3 separate regions of the Homo sapiens genome follow, and regions 2 and 3 are each linked to region 1. The links come from fine-mapping of genetic effects on gene expression. A gene starts in region 1. Each other region holds a variant in brackets. All regions are shown on one strand. Distances are from middle to middle.

What was found. PIP is the estimated chance that this variant, and not a neighbour inherited with it, causes the effect.
Region 2: its variant is the best candidate, but not a certain one, in a credible set for the expression of VAMP2 in spinal cord (GTEx, PIP 0.77).
Region 3: its variant is the best candidate, but not a certain one, in a credible set for the expression of VAMP2 in whole blood (TOPMed, PIP 0.83).

Annotation. Positions count from the first base shown.
Region 1 is chr17:8,158,319-8,166,495 of GRCh38, reverse strand. It overlaps VAMP2 (vesicle associated membrane protein 2), which reads left to right and starts at 3,548. Exons shown (of 5, transcript NM_014232.3): 1 at 3,548-3,618; 2 at 4,127-4,247; 3 at 4,730-4,888; 4 at 4,972-5,023; 5 at 5,625-7,347. The coding sequence starts at 3,617. The coding sequence ends at 5,641. RefSeq lists silencers at 3,181-3,240, 3,371-3,470, 3,631-3,820, 4,111-4,220, 7,441-7,490 and enhancers at 4,331-4,380, 7,611-7,850.
Region 2 is chr17:7,504,771-7,512,947 of GRCh38, reverse strand. POLR2A (RNA polymerase II subunit A) reads right to left here. Exons shown (of 30, transcript NM_000937.5): 20 at 4,473-4,697; 21 at 3,758-4,004; 22 at 3,316-3,416; 23 at 1,629-1,733; 24 at 1,360-1,542; 25 at 934-1,137; 26 at 604-790; 27 at 358-471; 28 at 25-174. Among named protein-coding and RNA genes, the nearest start is that of POLR2A, 24 kb to the right of the region's middle. RefSeq lists an enhancer at 482-1,681. The variant G/A (reference allele first, on the strand shown) is at 3,722.
Region 3 is chr17:8,194,063-8,202,239 of GRCh38, reverse strand. It overlaps LOC124903913 (a long non-coding RNA gene), which reads left to right and starts at 2,012. Exons shown (of 2, transcript XR_007065604.1): 1 at 2,012-3,027. RefSeq lists enhancers at 1,815-2,304, 5,904-6,213. The variant G/A (reference allele first, on the strand shown) is at 4,891.

The DNA of each region.
Region 1 (8,177 bases):
AGCAGAGGTTGTAGTGAGCCAAGCTTGTGCCACTGCACTCCAGCTTGGGTGACAGAGGGAGACTGCCTCAAAAAAAATAATTAAAAAGGCCGGGCACAGTGGCTCACACCTGTAATCCCAGAACTTCGGGAGGCCAAAGTGGGCAGATCACCTGAAGTCAGGAGTTTGAGACCAGCCTGGCCAACATGGCGCAACCCTGTCTTTACTAAAAATAGAAAAATTAGCCAGGCATGGTGGCGGACGCCTGTAATCCCAGGGACTCGGGAGCCTGAGGCAGGAGAATCTCTTGAACCCAGGAGGCAGAGGTTGCAGTGAGCCGAGATCACGCCACTGCACTGCAGCCCCGGCCGACTTCTAAACCAGTAATTGTCTGAAGAGAAAAAAAAATTACGAAATAAGGCCGGGCATGGTGGCTCACGCCTGTAATCCCAGCACTTTGGGAGGCCACGGTGGGTGGGTCACCTGAGGTCAGGAGTTCGAGACCAGCCTGGCCAACATGGTGAAATCCCGTCTCTACTAAAAGTACAAAACGATTAGCCGGGCGTGGTGGTGCACTCCTGTAATCCCAGCCACTTGGGAGTCTGAGGCAGGAGAATCACTTGAACCCGGGAGGTGGAGGTTGCAGTGAGCCGAGATCGCACCATTGCACTCCAGCCTGGGCAAGAAGAGCGAAACTCCATCTTAAATATAAATAAATAAATAATAATAAAAATAAAAAATAAAAGAAAGCGTTTATGAAAGTGTGGTCTCGGCCAGGCGCGGTGGCTCAAGCCTGTAATCTCAGCACTTCGGAAGGCCAAGGCGGGCGGATCACGGGGTCAGGAGATCAAGACCACCCTGGCTAACACGGTGAAACCCTGTCTCTACTAAAAATACAAAAAATTAGCCGGGCCGGGTGGTGGGCGCCTGTAGTCCCAGCTACTCGGGAGGCTGAGGGAGGAGAATGGCGTGAACCTGGGAGGCGGAGTTTGCAGTGAGCAGAGATCGCGCCATTGCACTCCAGCCTGGGTGACAGACAGAGACTCTGTCTCAAAAAAGAAAAAAAAAGAAAAAAAAAAGAAAAAGAAAGTGTGGTCTCTGTTGCCTACATCACCATCACCTTGAGTCCTACATCCTTTGAATGAGTCTTGGGGGTGTGCCCTAGAAAATCATTGGCCAATTCCCGAAGCCAGTACATGTAGAAGCCAAATCTGAGTTATGCAAATACATTATTTTTCTATTGTTCAACTTACCTCTATTTGGGTCTCCATTCTACCTGCCTGCAGAAAACATTCTCTCAGTCACTTCCAGGTGAACTCCGTCATCCCACTCCTTCTCCCACCTCCACCATTGATCTAAATTTGGGGAGTTCCTCTGAGCCACAGCCTAGGTGGGGTGGGGTGGGAAGGGGCTGCTGGATGAGAGTCCTCTTTCTGAGATGAATCCTCCTGGGCCCTTCATCTCCGTGGGTCACACATGCCCTCATTTCTACTCTGCTGCTGCCGTCCCCACGATCCAATAGCAATAGCACGACCCCTGGCCTTGACCGTGTATCTGGGGCTCTGTCCCTTCCACATCACCCCCAAACCAGCATCAAATGTCTTGTCTGGCTCTGCACTAGGCTCCCCTCAGTTAGTGCAGGGTGTCCAACTGGGGGCGGAAGGGCTTCCTGTGCCTGCCTCTTCCAATCCTCCATGTCTTATTTATACCCTGACAGACACTGAGGGTTTTGAACTTAAAAGGCTGGAATTTGGCATCTTTGTTCTCTGACTAGAAAGAGGAATCATTTGAAGACCAAAAAGCAGGAGCCAGCATCTCACAGCATGATCTGAGACCCCCGTGGAAGCTGCTCTTTTCTTTCTCATCACATAGGCTGAGCCACCCGGGACTGTCAGTGCACAAGGACCAGGGACGCGGCTGCTCCTCTGAGGGGGAGGAAGCCAAGAGTATCTTCTCTTAGATTGGGCTGAGTTCCCACACCCAGCACACACATTCCCTGCTCACTCACCTCCCACAGACAGCTGGGAAATGACACCTCTGGTGACAGAGCCACTCTCCGGGCTTCTGTGGGGAGCGGGTGGGGCACTGCAGTGGGGGAGGATCTCACACCCGGAGGCCCTGGGAAGCCAGGGTGGGGGAGGGAGGAAGCTGGTTCCTGTTTGTCTTAGAGATCAAGGCCATCAGCCTCCCTGCACCTTCCAGGGATGTAGTAAGCACCCCCACCCCAGGGCCAAAGGGCCTCGCCTAAAATGCCTCCTGCACCCTTGAGGCTTGCTTTGACCCCCTGCACTCCACCAGAGCGACAGCTCCCCTGGTCCCATCTTCTCTGACAAGCTGGGTGGGAGTGTATACAGCTGCTGGGTGTGCTTAGAGGGCCTAATGGAGACCAGCCAGGGATAATCTCCTATGTTATCCACATCAAGCCATTTAACAAATATGGATTTAGTACCTACATATGCAATGTATTTGGGGTCCAGAGAGAGGAGGGCAACGGTCCAAGGTCACACCTGCGAGGCGAATACGCATGTAAAGCAGCACCTTGTAACCTGTGCCCACTGTGCCTACTACTAAAGAAAAAAAAATGAGAGAAAAAGAAAAAAGGCTTTTTTTTTTTTTTTGGCCCAGGCCCTGTGCCTGGGACCAAAGCCTGAGCCCTTTCCTGCAGTCGGGTCGCTGACCTAAGCCTGGGGCAAAGCTAGGTCTTGGCCAGTCAGCAGCCACCACGTGAAGCAGCCCCTGCCCCCATCACCCCCGGCAGCCTTGTGCCCTCCTCCTCGGGGTCCTCAGCTCACCCCACCTCAGTCGGGCCTGCTCCAGCGGTTAAGTACCCCTAGTCTGAACCTTAATCGTGAGGCGGGGCAGCCCCCTCCCCACACCCTGTAGACACTCCCCCGTCCTCCGCCCCCTGGACTTGTTTGGGCGGGAAGAGCCTGCCTCATCTTTTCTTCCTACCCTCCTACCCAGTGGCCAGGGACCCCAGGCTTCCTCTGAGACATCCACCAGCGGTGATGGGTTGGGACCAATCTCCCCCACTCCTCTCCACCCTAGCAGTAAGGTCCCCGCTCTCGATACTGCCCCAGCACCTGCACTGGCCCTCTCTGATTTCCCAACTCCAGCCCATTCCAAGTGCTGAAGGCGGGTCGCTAGGTGCTGGGACCTGGGCGCGGGGCAAGACCTTGGGCTGTGTGGGGTGCAGGCTGGTTTACTGGGTTCACGATTGAGGGAGTGGTCTGGGGGTTAGGTGTAGGGCCAGGCTGCGTTGTGCTCTAAGGGGCAGGCGGCAGGCGGTTTGGGGGGGCTGTGGTCAGACAGGGTGGGGTGGCGGTGGGTTTGGGGAAGCCGCAGCAGCCCGCCTTGGGGTCCCGCGAGTGCCGAGGGAGCTGCCGGGGCATGGTGGCGCGGGGCCCGTGGTCCTGCCCGGCACGACCCCCGCCCCGCAGCGCCCCGCAGCGCCCCGCCCCCGCGGCCCCGCTCGCGACGCGTCTCCCGCGGCGCCCCGCCCCCGCCCGCAGTGCCCGGATGCGGGTGACGCGCGGCCGCCATCTTTCCGTCCCGGGCAGCCAGCGCCAGTCGGAGCCAGCGCGAGCCGCCGCCGCCATCACTGCCGCTGCCAAGTCCTCCACCCGCTGCCCCCGCCATGTGAGTCGGCCGCCCGCCACCCTCACCGCGCTTCCCTGCGCCGGCCGCCGCCCTTGGCAACCGGCCGTCGGGAGTGCCCGGGGTCTCTCCTGCGTTCCCCGCGCCCCGGGGCCAGGCCCAAGCCGGTGACTGCGCGCGGGCGGCCGAGGAGCCCCGCGTCCCGGGCTGGCCGGCTCGGGCGATGGCCGCGGGAAGGAGCGGACCCAGTGTCCTCCTGCCCCTCCCCGCCCCTGTCACCGCGGCCGCCTGTCTTTTCGGGTCGACCCGGATCGCATCTGTGAGGTCGCCCTCAGTTGACAGGCGGGGAAACTGAGGCCGGGGGGGCCTCGCTCAAGGTCACGCAGCTCATCGGCGGCAGGGCTGGACCGAGACCAGGGCTTACATCGGGTGGCCTTCCTCCCGAAAAGGAGGACTGGAGGGACGAGGATGGACAGGTGGATGGGCGGAGCCCTGGCTGCGGGGCCGGGAGGCTGCAGGCCCTGGGTCTTAATCCGTCCCTGCTCCTCAGGTCTGCTACCGCTGCCACGGCCCCCCCTGCTGCCCCGGCTGGGGAGGGTGGTCCCCCTGCACCCCCTCCAAACCTCACCAGTAACAGGAGACTGCAGCAGACCCAGGCCCAGGTGGATGAGGTGAGTGTGGGGGGAGTCAAAAGCAGTAGGAGGGACCCTGGGGGTTGGCGTATAGGTGTAGGGGCCCATGTTGGTTTGGGAGTGATGACAGTTCACGCCTGTGGGTTTGCGGACAAAGATACCATGCCCCATCCCTGTCTCCCTGTCAGCACGCACTTGGAAGGGCGCTGGGGGTGTTAATCAGCTTTGCTAGCCTGGGGTGTGCCAGCCTGGGCAGGTGTGCTCTGGTGATGGACAGAGCGCCTGAGGTTCCATAGAGGGAGGGTGTTGCTATGACATCTGAGATGTCACCAGCATGCCCCTGATGTGTGCTCCTTGCATGTCCCCAGGTGTGCTAGGCATGTTCTGTGTGTCCTTGGCATGTTAACCTGGCAGTATCAGGGTGCATGTTCCATGTGTGGCACGGTGGGCACATGTTTGAGGATTGCCCTCACTGAGGTGGGCCTTGGCACACCCCCCTGCCTCGTGGGCCCTTCTCCCAGGTGGTGGACATCATGAGGGTGAACGTGGACAAGGTCCTGGAGCGAGACCAGAAGCTGTCGGAGCTGGACGACCGTGCAGATGCACTCCAGGCGGGGGCCTCCCAGTTTGAAACAAGCGCAGCCAAGCTCAAGCGCAAATACTGGTGGAAAAACCTCAAGGTAAGGGTGGGGACAGGAAGGAGGACAGGTGGGTGAATGGGGTATCATAGTTTGTCTTACTGATCCTCGCCTCTCACCCCCAGATGATGATCATCTTGGGAGTGATTTGCGCCATCATCCTCATCATCATCATAGGTGAGTAGGGTGAGAATGGCCGGGGCCCTTTCCCTGGAGAGGTTTCCCCAGTGGATTCTAGGTTTTGAAGGTCATTAATCTAGTTTTTACTCTTCAGCCAAAAACACATATAGCTGCTAATGGCAATTCTGATTCATCTAGAGCCAAAAACTTTGATGTTATTTAGCCTGCATTTTGCCTAGTTCTTGGCAGTCTTGTTAACATTTGGAAATAGGAAAGCTGGTGTATCCATTGAGGACCCTTTAGGCCTAAGAGCCCAGTCTGAGAACCCTGGAATTGAGGAGTGGGAGAAAGGAAAGGACCAGGGGCTTGAGACATGACCAGGAAGCCAACCACCCCATTATTTGAGAGCTTGCGGTCTCAGAGGCTCAGAGGATTAGGGTCTGTGGCTTCAAGGCCATACCATGGAGCGGAAGGGACCTCAGAACCTACCTGTCTAGCCCCTTGCTTTGTAGATGGAAAAACTGAGTCCAAGAGAGGGTGTCAGCCAGCTGGGGAGTGGGGAGGATTGGAGCAGGGCCAGGCCTGACACACTGCTTTCTTGTTCTCTCTCTTTCTCTCCCCTCTCCCTCTTCCTCATCTTCTTCCCCTCTCTCCACAGTTTACTTCAGCACTTAAATCCCCGAGGAGTCTGCCCTGCCTAGAGAAGGGCCTCTCCCCCAACCCTCAGCCGTTCCTCCACCTCTCAGCCATATCTTTCAGCCCCCACTCCCCTGGATCCGTGTGTGTGTGTGTCCGTGTGTGTGTCCCCCTGTAAATAGCCAGCTGTTATTTATACATATATAATATTATATATATTTGGTCTGTTTGTAGTTTTATTACTAGATGATTTTTCCGGTTGTCCTTAACACCCCTTCCTGAGGTTCCCTTCACCCCTCTCTCTTGCCTTCCTTCCCTTTCCCTTTCTTCCTGACTAGCCCCAAGTCCCTTCATTTGCATCTGCTATGCAATAGTCCCTCTCCTTTCCTTCTTCTTCCCTCAGATTTAGCTGATCCTTCCTCCCACCCTGGCCTTCCTTTCCTCTTTCCTCCTCACTCTCCCCGTCATGCTCCCTCTGCCCCGCCCTCAAAAAAAAAAAAAAAAAAAAAAAAACAACAGCACCTGTCCAGGCTTCCTTAGGTACATCTTCTTTGTATCCATTGGGAGGCTCTGAGACTGGCCCCACTTGGTCCTAAGAATCCCAAGGTCTTTGGGAGCGTCCAGCATGTTAATTAGCGTATCATTACATACTGCTATCCCTTTCCATTTCTTTTTGTTCCATCACTCTTCTCTCAACCTGTGTTTCTTTTTTTACTGAGGAGTTAGTCCCCATTAGTTCTTGTATCACATTTTCATTTGCACGACATTACTCGCAGGTGGTGGGGAGCCTGGGCTTTTGGGGAACCAGGCTGCTCTGGTCCCCAGCATTGCCTCCTCCTAGCCCCTCTAGTCCAGTTTGCCTCCCTTACCCTCATTTTCCAAACCTCTTGTACCCTCCTCTCCCTCCCCCAGCTGGTATGTAAGTGTCTTGAAGTTCAGTATGTTATGATGGACCAATAATTCTGCCACTTCGGGTTTCTCCCTACATTCCTGCTCCCCAGTTTTCATGTGGGGTACTCAACTGACATTCCCATGGGGTTTCCCTCCCATCTGCCTGATCCACCTCCTCCTCCCACCAGGAGAGTTGGGGGTTGGCCACAATTGATCTCTTGTGAGAGGGGTGGCTACCAGTGTGTGTGTGGGGGTCATCACTGCCTTGGGGAGGAGTGGGGCAGGGCAGAGAATCCCCCCAATTCCTGCCTGAAATCTCTGGCCTCACCCCTGCTGGGGGTTGGACTGAAAACCCTCCTCCCCAATTTGGGGGGTGTTGCCCCATCACTGCCCAGCTCCTCTGACTGCCCCCCCTGAATTTAGGGTGGGGGTACTAGTCACTGCCAATGTGTGTATGGGACTTGCTGGAAAACGGGGATGCTTGCCCCTCTCCAGGACTATTGAGCCCAGAGAGAGCTGTCCTCTCATTGGGTGAACTGATTGAGGAAGGGTCTATTGTCTTTTTAAATGGCACAATTTTAAGGGTTTGAGGGTACAGTCCCTTAACCTGCCACGGGAGGGGGCCCCCAAACTTTCTTCCCCCCACACTTCTGGTTTTCTGTGTGGAGGGGGAGCAGGGATATCTAAGCTGTGGTGTGAAAGGGTAGGAGAGATGCTGGAGGTGGGGGTGCTGTGTTTTAGACCCCCCATATTATCCCAGTGTCCCCTGCCCCCCTCTTCCCCCACCCCATGCCCCCAATTCTGTGGCGCATCCAGATTGTGAAAATGTACAATAAATGTGTAATGAGTAACCAGGTGTTGTCTAAGATCTTTTTTATTTTTCTATTTTTTTTTTTTGGTTGGGGGAGAATAAGATCTTTTCTTAACCAATGGGAATAATATTGGATCGGAAGGTATACCAGGAAGGTTGAGAAGATACATTGGTAATGGACTGGACTTTGCAAGAGGCCCTGACCTTGGGCAGGGCAAAGTGTGATTCTCAAAGTGGCCACAGGGGGGCACTAGGAGTTGGTAATGGGAAGTGTCATAGCCAGCCCGTGTCTCTAAGCCCGGTGCGCCCTGTGGTCTAGGGTTCCCAGCTTTCGTTTCCCTTTACTGGGGCATGTTCCTGCTGTTGGACTCCTTTCTACTCCTCGATTTAACTTCTAGACGCTCTGCCGTGGCTCCCGTGCAGCAGTAGATGAAGTAGTTGGCCATTTCTGTGAAGCATGTCTTCCCCTCTGTGCCTAACCCAGTGCCAGCGCCCAGATGGGGTTAGTAAATTGTGGTTTAAATAGGCTCACAGAGACAAAGCTGAGTATGTTGTGGAGCTGCCTGTAGATGGCCTACTACCCCTGTACTCTGTTGTATGACTTGTGACTTTAGACCCCACACTGAACTGCCACAGCCTGTAGGTCCAGGAGGCCCCGATGTGGCATCTTAGTATCCCTGTTCCCAGGTGCTTCAACAATGAGTGGCCGGCCGCGGTGGCTCACGCCAGTAATCCCAGCCCTTTGGGAGGCCGAGGTGGGCGGATCACGAGGTCAGGAGTTCAAGACCAGCCTGGCCAACACAGTGAAACCACATCTCTACTAAAAATACACACAAAAAATTAGCCGGGGATGGTGGCGGGCACCTGTAATCC
Region 2 (8,177 bases), 650 kb after region 1:
GCCTGACAGATGGCGACAACTCACCTGGTGAAGGGATGTAGGGGCTTGAGGGACCTGGGGACCCCGGGGAGCCCGGTGTGGGAGACCAGGCAGGGGAGTAACCTGGGCTGAAGCCGCTGGCATCTGACGCAGCACTGGGAGAGAAGCCGGCTGCCCCTGGGGTCATTCCACTCCCTATAGAGTGAGAGAAGCAAGTTAAGGCCAGAGCGGGAGACCAAAGGCCCCCAATTCTCCCTGCCCCACCTTTCACTAGCCCTCTGCGGCCTTCAGAGTTCCAACAATGGCTACCGTTCACGATCCCAGCTTATCCACCTCTGAACCACCTGGAGGGCCCTCTTCCTGGATCAGGTTACTCACCAACACTGGGGGACCAGGCGCCATAGGCAGGGGTTGCACCCTGGTTCCAAGGTGTCATGGCAGGAGAGATTCCACCCATGGGACTGGGTGCTGAACCAAAGAACATGCCGGTGGCTGCAAAGAGGAACACAGGAAATCGTGAGGAGCAAGAACAGCAATCATGGACTGGTGACACCCTTGCACCCATGGCCTGCCCCCCCGCCTCGCCGACGCAAGCAGGTACCGCAGCTGGGGCCTCATACTCACGTCCAGCAGCCCCCAGGCCGGGGATATTGGTGGGGATCTCCATGCCATACTTGCACTTCTCTGCATCAAGCAGGAGGTCAAAGCAGCCAGTGCCGGCCGGAGCCAGCTGGCCCAGCATGATATTCTCAGAGACCCCCTTCATGGGGTCACTCTCACCGTGTGCGGCTGCTTCCATAAGCACGTCCACCTGAACAGAGCAGACCGGCCCCATGAGACCCCTCCACACACAGCACCTGACTGTCCCATCACCACAGCCCAGCTGCCCAAAGTGTGTGCCCTTCTTCTCACACTACTCCCTCCTTCTGCCCTATTCAGAAATTCCACTGTTACCGTTTCCTCAAAGGAACACTTCATGAGTGGTCCTGTGTCCTGGCGGTTGACTCCGTGTCGGGTGATGGCCATCAAGTGGCCACGACAGGTCATGGTATCACACAAGAGAGCCAAGTGTCGGTAATTGACATAGGAGCCATCAAAGGAGATGACGTGGTACAGCTCCCGCTCCAGGGCCTTCCGCACGGCTTCAATGCCCAGCACCTGGCACAGGGGAGGGAAGTGGAGGGGAGGGCCAGGACTGAGCAACTCTGCTCTCTTCCCTGCTTCTGTCGCCACCCAGATCCAGGGAGGGTGTCAGGAGCCAGGATATCCCACACTCAGAAATGGAATCAGGCAGAAAAAGTCCTGAGTGGACAGCACAGAATGAGGGGCCTGAGAGCCAGAGATCCACGAAAGGCAGCTAGGCAGCACACACGGGCTCACCGTGAAGATCTCCACAATGTCATTGGACGTGGTGCGTACGGGGTCCACGTCCTTCTCACTCAGCACCCGCATCAAGCTCACGCCGTCCGTCTCCAGGATCCACTCCTGCAGGGCCTTGAATTCCCCATCCTCCGTGATGATGATCTTCTTCTTGTTGTCTGTCTGTGGCAAGTGCATGTACACCTGTGGGAAGACAGCGTGCTCAGAGTAGGCAGGGAGGGGAGTGTGGGAGTGGGAGGAGGAAGGCGGTGGCAGAGGGGATGGCTGACCTTGCTGATCTGCTCGATGCCCTGCAGGGTCATATCTGTCAGCATGTTGGACTCGATGCAGCGCAGGAAGACATCATCATCCATCTTGTCCACCACCTCTTCCTCCTGCAGTGAGAGTGAGGTCAGCACTTGGCATCCTCTGGTCTCTTCCCCAGCTCTCGCCTCCAACTACAGCCTCTTTGAGGGCCAAACGAGTCAGTCACCAGGCTCTGCCCCTCACAGTTCCAGTGAGACTTTTTTTTTTTTTTTTTTGAGGTGGAGTCTCGCTGTTATCAGCCTGGGCTGGAGTGCAATGCCACGATCTCAGCTCACTGCAACCTCTACCTCCCATGTTCCTGCAATTCTCCAGTGAGACTTTTAATCCTGATTTTACAATATTAAAAGAAGCCTAAGGAAAGGCACCCAAATCCCACCACCCCGTCACAACTTCCACTCTTGTGCAGTCCTGCGCCTAGCGAGAGGCGGGCTCCACGTACATGTCATATCCTCCCAACTGCTGTACCCGAGCACACACCATTCCCTGCTCTGGCACTTCACTGTGTGTTCATCTAGGCTGCTGCTGGCATGACAGTGATCACTTCTAATGGCCATATACTGTATTCCATCAAGACCTATCAATGCTTTTATAACTGTTCTCTGACAGCAGTTCAGCAGTTAGTGAGTTCTTCAGTTTTTTGTTTTTGTTTTTTTAGAGATGGAGTTTCGCTTATTGCCCAGGCTGGAGTGCAATGGTGTGATCTTGCCTCACCACAACCTCTGCCTCCCATGTTCAAGCATTTCTCCTGCCTCAGCCTCCTGAGTAACTGAGATTACAGGCATGCGCCACCACGCCCGGCTCATTTTGTATTTTTAGTAGAGACGGGGTTTCTCCATGTCGGTCAGGCTGGTCTCGAACTCCCGACCTCAGGTAATCTGCCCGCCTTGGCCTCCCAAAGTGCTGGGATTACAAGTGTGAGCCACCATGCCCAGCCTGAGTTCTTCAGTTTTTATTACTAAAGCACCAGGTACCAACATGTGCCAAACAAGTATCTCAGGAGCCATGCCCAGGAGTGAAGTCACTGATCCAGCCTTTTCATGGGTCTTGTTATGGCTGTCACACGACTTCCCCTAGGACATAGCAATGCCTACTGCCCAACCTGCCCCCAAGTCTGGCCCCTGCCTCAGGGGTGGGGCTTGTATTCCCTAAGCAAAGCAAGCTGCAGGAGCCTTGGGGGAGGAGAGCCAAGTGACAGCGTGACAGGGAGGCACTCCTATCTCCTATTTCAACACCACCTGTTTTATCTACTCGGCCGGTGCTGTGGATTTTGAAAATCGTTGCTAATCACCATTCCCTATCCCTAAATTAGGTGGGTATGACTGGCCCCTCAATGTTTTTTTTATTTTTTGAGATAGTTTCACTCTTGTTGCCTCAGCCTCCCAAGTAGCTAGGATTACAGGCACATACCACCATGCCCGGCTAATTTTTATTTTTAGTAGAGACGGGGTTACTCCATGTTGGTCAGGCTGGTCTCGAACTCCTGAGCTCAGGTGATCCACCCGCCTCAGCCTCCCAAAGTGCTGGGATTACAGGCGTGAGCCACCGCGCCTGGCCGCCCCTCAATGTTGATTGCATCTTCTTTTCTTTGGTCTCTAACGTGATTCATGCGTTTTATACATGTGACACGCTGACTTCTAGGACCCCCATTACCTCTTGCATCTTGTTCTCATCGCTGTTCATGATGCGAATACGGAGCACCAGCTTCTCTGCATTGTCATCATTAAAGATGCAGTTCAAGTCGTCACCAAAACCTGGTGGGGTGAGGAGCCATGAGAAAGGCTGCAGCTAAGGGGACTGGCCCCAGCCACTGTCCACTCGCAGCTCTCTCTGAGCAAGGCTCTCTTTTGGCTCCCCGCTCCTCACAGAAACTTTCTTTTCATAGAACCCCCTGGAAAGGGGAAGGGAGAACATTCAGAAGAGAAAGGGAGTGCAGAGGGGACCTGGAGAGTTGGAGGATGCCTCGGAGGGGCGGAACTGGTACATGCATGGGGGTGAGGGTGGGTAGCTCTTTGGGGGCTCAAGTGCGGTGAACACGATAGGTGGTAGCCCAGAGAGC[G/A]GGGCTCCTGAGCCAGGCCAGCCCTCCTAGGCTTACCAGCATTGATCTTTTCAGCAATCTGCTCCATGGTGAGCTTCCGGTCAGTCATGTGCTTCCGATCCAGCTCCACCCGCAACAGCCAGGGGGAGATTCGGGCCACATCAAAGTCAGGCATTTCATAGTAGACATTCACCCATTCCTGATCCTCTGCCACCACCGTGCTCTGGGGGTTGGGGTCATAGTAGATGGCTGTGTTGGCAGTCACCTTCCTCAACGTTGTATGCTCCAGACGGCACAGAATATCCTGGGAAGAGACAGAAGTCCATGACACAGGGAACTGAGTAGCTCTAAACGTCTCTTCTAACCCTCCTTATCAAGGGAATCCAAAACCCTTTATTCAAGGGGAAAAGTTCTCCTTTTTTTTCTTTTTTTCTTTCAGATGGAATCTCGCTCTTGTTGCCCAGGCTGGAGTGCAGTGGCACAATCTCGGCTCACTGCAACCTCTGCCCCCCAGGTTCAAGCGATTCTCCTGTCTCAGCCCCAACTAGCAGCTGGGATTACAGGCACACACGACCATGCCCGGCTAATTTTTCTATTTTTAGTAGAGATGGGGTTTCACCACCTTGGCCAGGTTAGTCTTGAACTCCTGACCTCAGGTGATCCACCTGCCTTGGCCTCCCAAAGTGCTGGGATTACAGACATGAGCCACCATACCCAGTTGAGTTCTCCTTCTTTTCTTCCGGCCAAAAAGCCCAGCAGTCCTGATCCCTACCTTGGCTCTCTCAGCATCTCGAGCGGACTGGCCCAACAGGAAGACAGTAAGCGAAGGAGTCTTTGGCTTCTTGGAAATGTTGATGAGCTCCTTAAGTCGGGGCACACCCAGCGTCACATTCTTGGCAGACACACCAGCATAGTGGAAGGTATTCAAGGTCATCTGGGTGGCAGGTTCTCCAAGGGACTGCGCAGCCAGAGCCCCCACCATTTCCCCGGGATGCGCCTAAGAAAAAGCTAGCATCAGACAAAGCCAACGCCTCTCTTTCAGTGAATGAGTACGATGTGGATCTGCATCTGGCTTATCACAGGGCCAGGACTGTAATCTTAAAGGACATGGGTAGATGAGTTCGGAAAAGGCAGACAGACTCTTAACAAAAACAAAACTCTTATTTGATCATCCCCTTCCTCACACAAGAGCTTCCATTTATAGGACGCCATTTGGCACCTGGTATGCAGCACATCCAAAGAAAGCTACTATACCATCTGAGATCCAAATTTTTTCGAGACGGAGTCTCACCGTCGCCTAGGCTGGAGTGCAATGGCACGATCTCGGCTCACTGCAACTTCTGCCTCCCAGGTTCAAGCGATTCTCCTGCCTCAGCCTCCCAAGTAGCTGGAATTACAGACGCGTGCCACCACACCCAGCTAATATTTTTTTGTATCTTTAGTAGAGACGGGGTTTCACCATGTTGGTTAGGCTGGTCTCAAACTCCCGACCTCAGGTGATCCACCCGCCTTGGCCTCCCAAAGTGCTGGGATTACAGGTGTGGGCCTCTTCGCCCGGCCAAGATCCAAATTTCTAAACCTATGTTAAAATTACTCCGTAAATATTCATTTTATAACAGTTAGCTAAATAGGAAGCTCCCCGTATGTGTTATGAGATAGTCACATACGAAATTAAACTTAACTGGAATCACAGTATCTAACTTTTTCAGACTAATTTCTTCCATTAAGCAAGTATACATTTAAGGTTCATCACTGGCAAAGACAGAATTTCGTTATGCTGCCCAGGCTGGTCTCAAACTCCTGGGCTCTCGTGAGCCTCCTGCCTCGGCCTCCCAAAGTGTTGAGATTAGAGTTATGAGCCAGTGCATCTGGCTTATCACTGTCTTTTTGTGGCTTGACAGATTTTTTTTTTTTGAGATAGAGTCTCACTCTGTTGCCCAGGCTGAAGTACAGTAGCATGATCTCAGCTCACTATTGCAGCTTCAACCTCCTGGCCTCAGGTATCCTCCCACCTCAGCCTCCCAAGTAGCTGGGATTACAGGTGCACTCCACCACACCTGGCTAAATTTTTTGTAGAGATGGGGTTTTGTCATGTTGCCCAAGGGTGGTCTTGAACTTCTGGGCTCAAGCAATCTTCCCACCTCAGCCTCCCAAAGTGCTAGGATTACAGACATCAGCCACTGTGCTTGGCTGTCCGTTACTTTTTTTTTTTTGAGATGGTCTCCCTCTGTCGCCCAGGCTGGAGTGCGGTGGTGCAGTCTCAGCTCACTGCAACCTCTGCTGCCTGGGTTCAAGTGATCCTCCTGCCTTACCCTCCGAAGTAGCTGGGATAGCAAGCATGTAGCACCACACTTAATTTTTCTATTTTTGGTAGAGTTGGGGGTTTCACCATGTTGGGCAGGCTGCTGGTCTGGAACTCAAGTCATCTACCTGCCTTGGCCTCCCAAAGTGCTGGGATTACAGGCGTGAGCCACCACGTAGGCCCAGCCTGTTCATTACTTTTTATTGCTGAATGATGTTCCCTCATATGGACATATCACATTTTGCCTATCCATTCATCAGTGGATGGACACTTGTTTTCACTGCTTAGCTACTGTAACACTGATACGAACATTTGTGTATAAATGTTTGTGTGGCCATATGTTTTCTGTTCTCTCGTGTGTGTGTGTATAATCTCTCTAGGAACGAAACTGCTGGGCCATATGGTAACTGCTTTAACTTCCTAAAGCAGTTGTACCTTTTCTACTAGCAATGTATGAGGGTTCTAATTTTTCCACATCCTTGTCAACACTTGTTATTATCTGTGTTTTGGATTACAGTCATCCTAGTGCATGTGAAGTGGCACATCACTCTGGTTTCATTTGCATTTCCCTGATGGCTAATGATGTTGAGTATCTTTTCATGCACTTACTGATCATTTACATGAATAGTACTCTTCTTTGGGGAAACATGTTTTTTTTATTATTTATTTATTTATTTATGTATTTTTTAGTAGAGACGGGGTTTCACCGTCTTAGCCAGGATGGTCTCAATCTCCTGACCTCGTGATCTGCCCGCCTCGGCCTCCCAAAGTGCTGGGATTACAGGCGTGAGCCACTGCGCCCAGCCTGTTTTTTTATTTTATTACTATTTTTGAGACAGAGTCTCACTCTTGTTGCCCACGCTGGAGTGCAATGGCACTATCTCGGCTGATCGCAACCTCCACCTCCCAGGTTCAAGCGATTCTCCTGCCTCAGCCTCCCGAGTAACTGGGATTACAGGCATGTGCCGACATGCCCGGCTAATTTTGTATTTTTAGTACAGACGGGGTTTCTCCATGTTGATCAGGCTGGTCTCAAACTCCCAACCTCAGGTGATCCACCCGCCTCAGCCTCCCAAAGTGTTAGGATTACAGGCGTGAGCCACCACGCCCAGCCAGGAAACATTTGTTGAAATCCTTTGAGACTTTTTATTGTTGACTTTTTATTGTTATAGTCCTTTATATATTCTTTATGTATGGCCCTTATCAGATGATTTCCAAATATTTTCTCCCATTCTCTGTGTTATCTTTTTACTTTCTTGATAGTGTCCTACGAAGCATTAAGTTTTAAATTTTGATGAAGTCCAATTCATCTATTTTTTCCTTTGGATGCTTATGCTTTTGGTGTCATACCTAAGAATTCACTGCTAAGCCACAGTCATGAAGATTTATTCAAGTTTCCTTATAAGAGTTTTATAGTGTTAGCTCTTCAATTTAGGCATTTTGAGAGTTTTTGTACATGGTATGAGGTAGGAATCCAACTTCATTCTCTTGCATGTGGATATCTAGTTGCCCTAGCACCATTTGCTAAAAAGAGTATTCTCACCCCATTTAATTAAATTGGGACTCTTGCAAAAAATCAAGTGACCATAAATGTGAGGGTTTATTTCTGGACTCTCAATTCTACTCTATCAGTCTTTATACGTATCCTCATGACAGAAGCACAGTCTTGTTTACTGTAGCTCTGTAGTAAGTTGTGAAATCAGGAATGTGAGTTCTCCAAACTTTTGCTACTTTTAAATATTGTTTTGGCTATTCTATATCCCTTGCATTTCCATATGAATTTTAACATCAGCTTAATAAATTTCTGAGAAAAAGCCAGTTGGAATTTTGATAGGGATTATATTGGATCTATAGCTTATTTTGGGAAGTATATTAACAATATTAATATTCAACAATATTAAGTCTTCCAATCCATGAATATGAGAGGTCTTTCATTTAGGGTTTTTTTTTTTTTTTTTTGATACAGTCTCACTCTTGTTGCCCAGGCTGGAGTGCAATGGTGCAATCTCGGGTCACCGCAACCTCCATCCCCGGGTTCAGGTGATTCTCCTGTCTCAGCCTCCAGAGTAGCTGGGATTACAGGCATGTGCCACTATACCCTGCTAATTTTGTATTTTTAGTAAAGGTGGGGTTTCTTCCTGTTGGTAAGGCTGGTCTTGAACTCCTGACCTCAGG
Region 3 (8,177 bases), 36 kb before region 1:
CGGGGTGCTTATTTATTTTTTATTTTTTGAGACGGAGTTTTGCTTTGTCACTCATGCTGGAGTGCAGTGGCACAATCTCAGCTCACTGCAACCTCCACCTCCCAGGATCAAGCGATTCTCCTGCCTCAGCCTCCCGAGTAGCTGGGATTACAGGCATGTGCCACCACGCCCAGATAATTTTTGTATTTTTAGTAGAGATGGGTTTCACCATGTTGGCCAGGCTGGTCTCAAACTCCTGACCTCCAGTGATCCACCCGTCTGGGTCTCCCAAAGTGCTGGGATTACAGGCATGAGCCACTTCACCCATCCTGTAATTTTCTTTCTTTCTTTTTTTTTTTTTTTTGAGACAGAGTCTTCTGTCACCGAGGCTGGAGTGCAGTGGCACGATCGCGGCTTACTGCAAGCTCTGCCTCCTGGGTTCACGCCATTCTGCTGCCTCAGCCTCCCGAGTAGCTGGGACTACAGGCGCCCACCACCACGCCCAGCTAATTTTTTTTTTTTTTTTTGTATTTTTTAGTAGAGACGGGGTTTTCACCATGTTAGCCAAGATGGTCCCGATCTCCTGACCTCGGGATCCGCCCGCCTCGGCCTCCCAAAGTGCTGGGATTACAGGCGTGAGCCACCGCGCCCGGCCTTTCAGCCTATAATTTTTAATAAGGATATCCCTAGGGTTTTTTTTAAAGCTCTTCTACTGGATGCACATGCAGATTATTTCCAATGCTTTGCACTGTGGCCAGTGTCTTTTGAGTGCCTCCTGTGCACCTTTGTGATGGTCTCTAGTTGTCCTCTAGGGGACATCTGAAGAAAGACATGGCAATGGAGAGTACCAGCATCTAGAGAAAGACGTGGTAATGCTGGGTACACGCAGGTAAACGGTCTATAGATATCACCAAAAATGCCCCTCTAAGTGGTGGACAGTTTACACTCCCACCGGCAATAATGAAGGACACCTATTTTCCCACAGCCTTAACGCTGACTCCTACTTCTACTGTTACCTGCGGGTAAGCCTGCAGCTATCCGGGAAACTCCGGAGTTGCAACTCTGCAGCAACCTCTCTCCTCTGTTTTCTCGAGGGCAAGAATTCAAACGAGATAAAGGCAAGGTTTTTGCTTTTTCTCAAGACGGAATCTTGCTCTGTTGCCCAGGCTGGAATGCAATGGCGCGATCTCGACTCACTGCAACCTCCGCCTCCTGGGTTCAAGCGATCCTCCTGCTTCAGCCTCCCGAGTAGCTGGGATTACAGGCACGCGCCACCACGCCCGGCTAATTTTTGTATTTTTAGTAGAGACGAAGTTTCACCATATTGCCCACGCTGGTCTCGAACTCCTGACCTCGTGATCCGCCCCCTCCTCGGCCTCCCAAAGTGTTGGGATTACAGCCGTGAGCCACCGCACCCGGCCAAAGGCAAGGTTTAAGGCAGAAGGGAGAACTGATTTTAAGCCAAGTGAGAGTTTATTACAAGACAGTACACTTAGAAGAGGACAAGGCTGGAGACTTGAAAAATCAAGCGCCCCTTCCTTTTCTTTGTTTAGAGTTTTTTGTTTTTTGTTTTGAGACGGAGTCTCGCTCTGTCGCCCAGGCTGCAGTGCCGTGGCACAATCTCGGCTCACTGCAAGCTCCGCCTCCTGGGTTCAGGCTATTCTCCTGTCTCAGCCTCCCGAGCAGCTGGGACTACAGGCGCCCGCCACCACGCCCGGCTAATTTTTTGTATTTTTAGTAGAGATGGGGTTTCACTGTGTTAGCCAGGATGGTCTCGATTTCCTGATCTCGTGATCCTCCCGCCTCTGCCTCCCAAAGTGCTGGGATTACAGGCGTGAGCCACCGCGCCCGGCATGTTTAGAGATTTTACACCCCCTACGTTTTCCCGCACTCTCTGTCTCCTCCTTATGTTCTTCCCTTGAGCGGGCTGTGGCTTAATTGCCGCATGCGCAGTGGCCTGCCGGCGTTTGGGAGGGACCGCATGCGCAGTGTTCACCGAAGTCCAGCGCATGCTCGTTAGGGGCAATTCGCCCTTTCTGGTCCAGAGCCCCCACAGGAAGGTTAGATACCGATCAAATTCAACCATTTTCTTTTTTCACTGCACATACTTAAAACCTTATAGGGGTGATGGCTTGCTAACTCCTGTTGCAAGACTCCTCTTACTCCCAGCACCAGCGATGGCCACTTATTATCTCAGACGGATGGTTGTATGCCTGCCGGTCCTTCACTCGATGAGAACCAGCTTGGGGGTTCTTCCCTTCTCGTGCTCATTATGTCAGAGGGACAGATTTCTAATCGCTTGACCATGGCTTGACAAATGCCCAGCATACCTGGAGGCCCTCTTTCCTGCCTTCATGTCTACCTACTCTAACATTACAAAGCATCCCCAATATATTGGCTTTTCTACTCCCGAAAACACCAAAGCTCCCCACAGCTCCCACACTAGTGATACCCCCTCTTCTCTGAGAAACAGCAGAACCAAACAGGGGTCTTGTACATTCCAATCACCAATTGCCCCAAGTTACCTCTGTTCACCTATTATCTGTCTTTCCCCTTCTCAAGTCCTGTCAGGGAGCCCCTCCAGATATACTCTGAACCCAGGCCTCCTACTATTCAACAACTTCATTCCAGTAATTGTCCCCTTTCGCTTTTCTACCATTTATATATATATATATATGTGTGTGTGTATACACACACATATCTATATCTATATCTATATCTATATATCCTTTTTTTTTTTTTGGCTGGATAAGTCTCATCACCATGCAAACATCTAGCATCCAAAAAAAAAAAAAAAAATAGGCCAGGGAGTTTGGCTCAGGCCAACTTTATATCTGTAAGCTCTGCCTCAATATCTGTGTGGAGAAGAGTGACGACAGACTGACACAGGCAGCCAAGGTGTTGGAGCAACTCACAGGCCAGACCCCTGTGTTTTCCAAAACTAGATGCACTGTCAGATCTTTTGTTTTCAGGAGAAATGAAAAGATTACTGTTGACTGCACAGTTCCAGGGGCCAAGGCAGAAGAAATCCTGGAGAAAGGTCCAAAGGTATGGGAGTATGAATTATTTTTTCTTAACTTCTCAGATACTGGAAACTTTGGTTTCCAGGAACACAAGAATCTGGGTATCAAATATGAAATCTTTGGCTGCGACTTTCTTTCTTTTTCTTTTTTTTTTTTGAGACAGGGTCTCACTCTGTCATCCAGGCTCAAGTGCAGTGGTGTGATCACAGCTCACTGCAGCCTTGAACTTGTGGGCTCAAGCAATCCTCCTGCCTCAGCCTCTGGAGCAGCTGGAACCACAGGTGCACACCACCACACCCGGGTAATTTTTTTTTCTCTTGTAGAGATGGGGTCTTATTATGTTGCCAAGGCTGGTGTTGAACTCCTGGGCTCAAGCGATCCTCCCACCTCGGCCTCCCAAAGTGCTGGGATTATAGGCTTGAGCCACTGTGCCAAACCCATGGTTTTATTTTTATTTTATTTTTGAGATGGAGTCGCTCTGTCACCCAAGCTGGAGTGCGGTCGCACAGTCTCAGCTCACTGCAACCTCCGCCCTCCGGGTTCAAGCAATTCTCCTGCCTCAGCCTCCCGAGTAGCTGGGATTACAGGCGCGTGCCACTGTGCCTAGCTAATTTTTATATTTTCAGTAGGGGTTTCACCATGTTGGCCAGGGTGATCTTGAACTCCTGACCTCAGGTGATCCACCCGCCTCAGCCTCTCAAAGTGCTGGAATTACAGGCGTGAGCCACTGTGCCCGGCCCAGCCCGTGGTTTTAAATACGACTCCCACATTTGTATTTCTCACCTTGACGTCCCTATCAAGCTTGAGACTAACACATTCTTGGCAATCTAATAGGCTTCTCAAAGTAAGCATGCCTAAAATAGTACTTTTTTTTTTTTTTAGACAGAGTTTTGCTCTGTTGCCCAGGCTGGAGTGCTGTGGCATGATCTCGGCTCACTGCAACCTCTGCCTCCCGGGTTCAAGCGATTCTCCTCCCTCAGCCTCCTGAGTAGCTGGGATTACAGGCACACGCCACCATGCCCAGCTAATTTTTTTTTTTTGTATTTTTAGTAGAGACGGGGGTTTCATCATGTTGGCCAAGCTGATCTCGAACTCCTGACCTCAGGTGATCCCCCGACCTTGGCCTCCCAAAGTGCAGGGATTACAGGCGGGAGCAACCACGCCTGGCCTAAAATAGTATTCTTAATTCAGTGCCCACCCAATCAAAAAAGTTGTAACTTCCCCATCTCAGTCAATAGCACTATCATTTAGCACCCAGTTACTTGGGTCAAAAACCTAGAAATCATTCCTGGTTTCTCTCTTTTTTCTTCCTCACCTCCCCAGATCTTCCAACTCTTCCTATTGCCAACCAAATCCATGGAGAGGCCCACCTTTATTACACACACACCCCATCACTCTCATGCTGGTTCAAGTCACCATCCTTTCTGGCTTGGGTGATAACAACCTCCTAACTATTCTCTCTGCTTCTTCTGTTCCTGCCTCCTAGAGTCCATTCCCCCAACAGTCAAAGTCAGAGCATATCATTCCTCTGTTCAAAACCCTCCTTTGGTTTTTCGGTGTATTTACAATAAAATCAAAACTCCTTATCATGGCTGGCAAGGTCCTATCTTCAGGGGTTATCAACAATGGCTGCACATTAGAAACATCTGAAGGACTTAAAAAGAAAATAGGAGACCGGGCGCGGTGGCTTACGCCTGTAATCCCAGCACTTTGGGAGGCTGAGGCGGGCGGATCACGAGGTCAGGAGATCAAGACCATCCTGGCTAACACGGTGAAACCCTGTCTCTACCAAAAATACAAAAAAAAATTACCTGGGCGTGGTGGTGGGTGCCTGTAGTCCCAGCTACTCAGGAGGCTGGGGCAGGAGAGTGGCATGAACCCAGGAGGC[G/A]GAGCTTGCAGTGAGCTGAGATCGTGCCACTGCACTCTAGCCTGGGCGACAGAGCGAGATTCCGTCTCAAAAAAAAAAAAACCAAAAAACAAAAAACTCCCAGGCCTTGCCCTAACAAATTCAGATTTCATTGATCTGGGTTGAGGCTGGAGCATCCATGTCGCTTTTAACTCCCCAGGTGGTTCTGAGGGGTTCAGAAGCCCTTCCCTAAGAGTTCTGGTCCTTCCCCACCAATGGATGCTCCTCTGTAACTGCTCTTCCACTTCCATCACTAAAGCTCTGACCTCGGCTGGGCGCGGCAGCTCATGCCTGTCATCCCAGCACTTTGGGAGGCCGAGGCGGGTGGATCACCTGAGGTCTGGGGTTCAAGACCAGCCTGGCCAACATGGTGAAATCCCATCTGTACTAAAAATACAAAAAAAAAAAAAAAAAAAAAAAATTAGCCGGGCGTGGTGGCGGGTGCATGTAATCCCAGCTACTTGGGAGAATGAAGCAGAAGAATCTCTTGAACCCCGGGAGTGGAGGTTGCAGTGAAGCAAGATTGGGCCATTGCACTCCAGCCTGGGCAACAAGAGGGAAACTCCATCTCAAAAAAAAAAAAGAAAAGAAAACAAAGACATCATCTCCTCACACGTGAAAATTCCAAGTATCCAGAGCAAGAGCCATCCCCAAATGTAATGTAAAACCATGGCATAATTCTACATGCCACATAAAACCTGCATTCCACCCCCATCCCACTCAACAAGCCCTACAGACAATACAAGGGCTGATGCCCTGGGGTATGGGGAGAAAACTGTCCTAGTTGACATTCTTCTAAATGCTGAGCATAGCTGACTGGGGCATTTGTTCATTTTTGGGACTTGATGATCACCTTACCTTCCCACTGAATGGATGATGCCAAAAAAAGAAAGCAGAAAAGATATCCAGCCTTGCTTGTTCCCCTGATAGGTCGGCAGATAACTTCTCTCTACTTCTGTGAAGTAATGTGGGCACTGGCAACATTGAGGGTGGGTAATCTGACCCCCACCCCTACTGTGGCCTATGGAGGGGTGAGACCTGTGGATGATCGAGCTTTCACTTTGAGTCAGCATGTCTCACTTTGAATTCCTTCACCATTGCTTATTAGCCATGTGACCTTGGCCAAGTTATTTTTGTATTTTTGTGAGTCTTTTTTTTTGAGACAGACTCTGTCACCCAGGCTGGAGTGTGGTGGCGCTGTCTCAGCTCACTGCAACCTCCGCCTCCTGGGTTGAAGCGATTCTAATAGAGACAGGGTTTCACCATGTTATCCAGACCAGCCTTGAACTCCTGACCTCAAGTGATCCACCTGCCTCGGCCTCCCAAAGTGCTGGGATTACAGGCGTGAGCCACGGCACCCAGCCAGCCACTGCGCCTGGCCTTTTGTGAGTCTTTAAGATGGAAATAACAGTCATTTCTTACGTATAACATGGGCTGTTCCCAATTGCATTAATATACATAGACATCTTGTTTTGTTTTGTTTTGTTTCGTTTGTTTGTTTTGAGATGGAGTCTCACTCTTGTTGCCCAGGCTGGAGTGCAATGGCATGATCTCCGTTCACTGCAACCTCCACCTCCCAGGTTCAAGTGATTCTCCTGCCTTAGCCTCCCGAGTAGCTGGGATTACAGGCATGCGCCACCACACCCAGCTAATTTTTATATTTTTAGTAGAGACAGGGTTTCACCATGTTGGCCAGAATGGTCTCTAACTCCTCACCTCAGGTGATCCACCGGCCTCGGCTTCCCAAAGTGTTGGGATTACAGATGTGAGCCACCGTGCCTGGCCCTTACATAGAAATTTTTACTTTCTAAAAATAATATTTTAAAATGCTGTTGGGGGCTGGGCGCAGTGGCTCACGCCTGTAATCCCAGCACTTTGGGAGGCTGAGGCGGGCCAGGTGGGGCGAGGTGGATCACGAGGTCAGGAGATCGAGACCATCCTGGCTAACACGGTGAAACCCCGTTTCTTCTAAAAATACAAATAATTAGCCGGGCATGGTGGCGGGCGCCTGTAGTCCCAGCTACTGGGGAGGCTGAGGCAGGAGAATGGCATGAACCCGGGAGGCAGAGCTTGCAGTGAGCCGAGATCATGCCACTGCACTCCAGCCTGGGCGACAGAGTGAGACTTCGTCTCAAAATAAATAAATAAATAAAACAAAATAAAATAAAATGCTGTTGGAGGCCAGGCACTGTGGCTGATGCCTGTAATGCTAGCACTTTGGGCAGATCATCTTAGGTCAGGAGTTTGAGACCAGCCTGGCCAACAAGGTGAAACCCTGTCTCTACTAAAGATAAAAAAATTAGCCGGGTGTGGTGGCATATGCCTGTAGTCCCAGATACTCAGGAGGCTGAGGCAGAGAATCGCTTGAACCCGGGAGGCGGAGGTTGCAGTGAGCTGAGATGGTGCCACTGCACTCCAGCCCGGGCAACAGAGCAAGACTGTGTCTCAAAAAACAACAACAATACAACACACAAAAAAAAGACAATACATAAGTGAATGAACATAGCTGTGTTCCAATAAAAATTTATAGACTCTGAATTTTTTTTTTTTTTTTTTTTTTGGAGACAGCGTTTCATTCTGTTGCCCAGGCTGGAGTGCAGTGGTGTGATCTTAGCTCACTTCAACCTCTGCCTCCTGGGTTCAAGCAATTCTCGTGCTTCAGCTTCCCGAGTAGCTGGGACTATGGGCACACATCACCATGCCCAGCTATTTTTTTTTTTTTTTTTGAGATGAAATGTTCTGTCGCCCGGGCTGGAGTGCAATGGAGCGACCTTGGCTCACTTCAACCTCTGCCTCCTGGGTTCAAGCAATTCTCGTGCTTCAGCTTCCCGAGTAGCTGGGACTATGGGCACACATCACCATGCCCAGCTATTTTTTTTTTTTTTTGAGATGAAATGTTCTGTCACCCAGGCTGGAGTGCAATGGAGCGACCTTGGCTCACTGCAACCTCTGCCTCCCTGGTTCAAGCGATTCTCCTGCCTCAGCCTCCCGAGTAGCTGGGATTACAGGCACCCGCCAATATGCGCGTCTAATTTTTGTATTTTTAGTAGAGACGGGGTTTCACCATGTTAGTCAGGCTGGTCTGGCACTGTTAACCTCAGGTGATCTGCGCACCTCGTCCTCCCAAAGTGCTGGGATTACATGTGTGAGCCACCACGCCCGGCTTCCCAGCTAATTTTTGTACTTTTTGTAGAGACAGGGCTTTTGCCATGTTGGCCAGGCTGATCTTGAACTCCTGGCCTCAAGTGATCCAACCGCCTCGGTTTCCC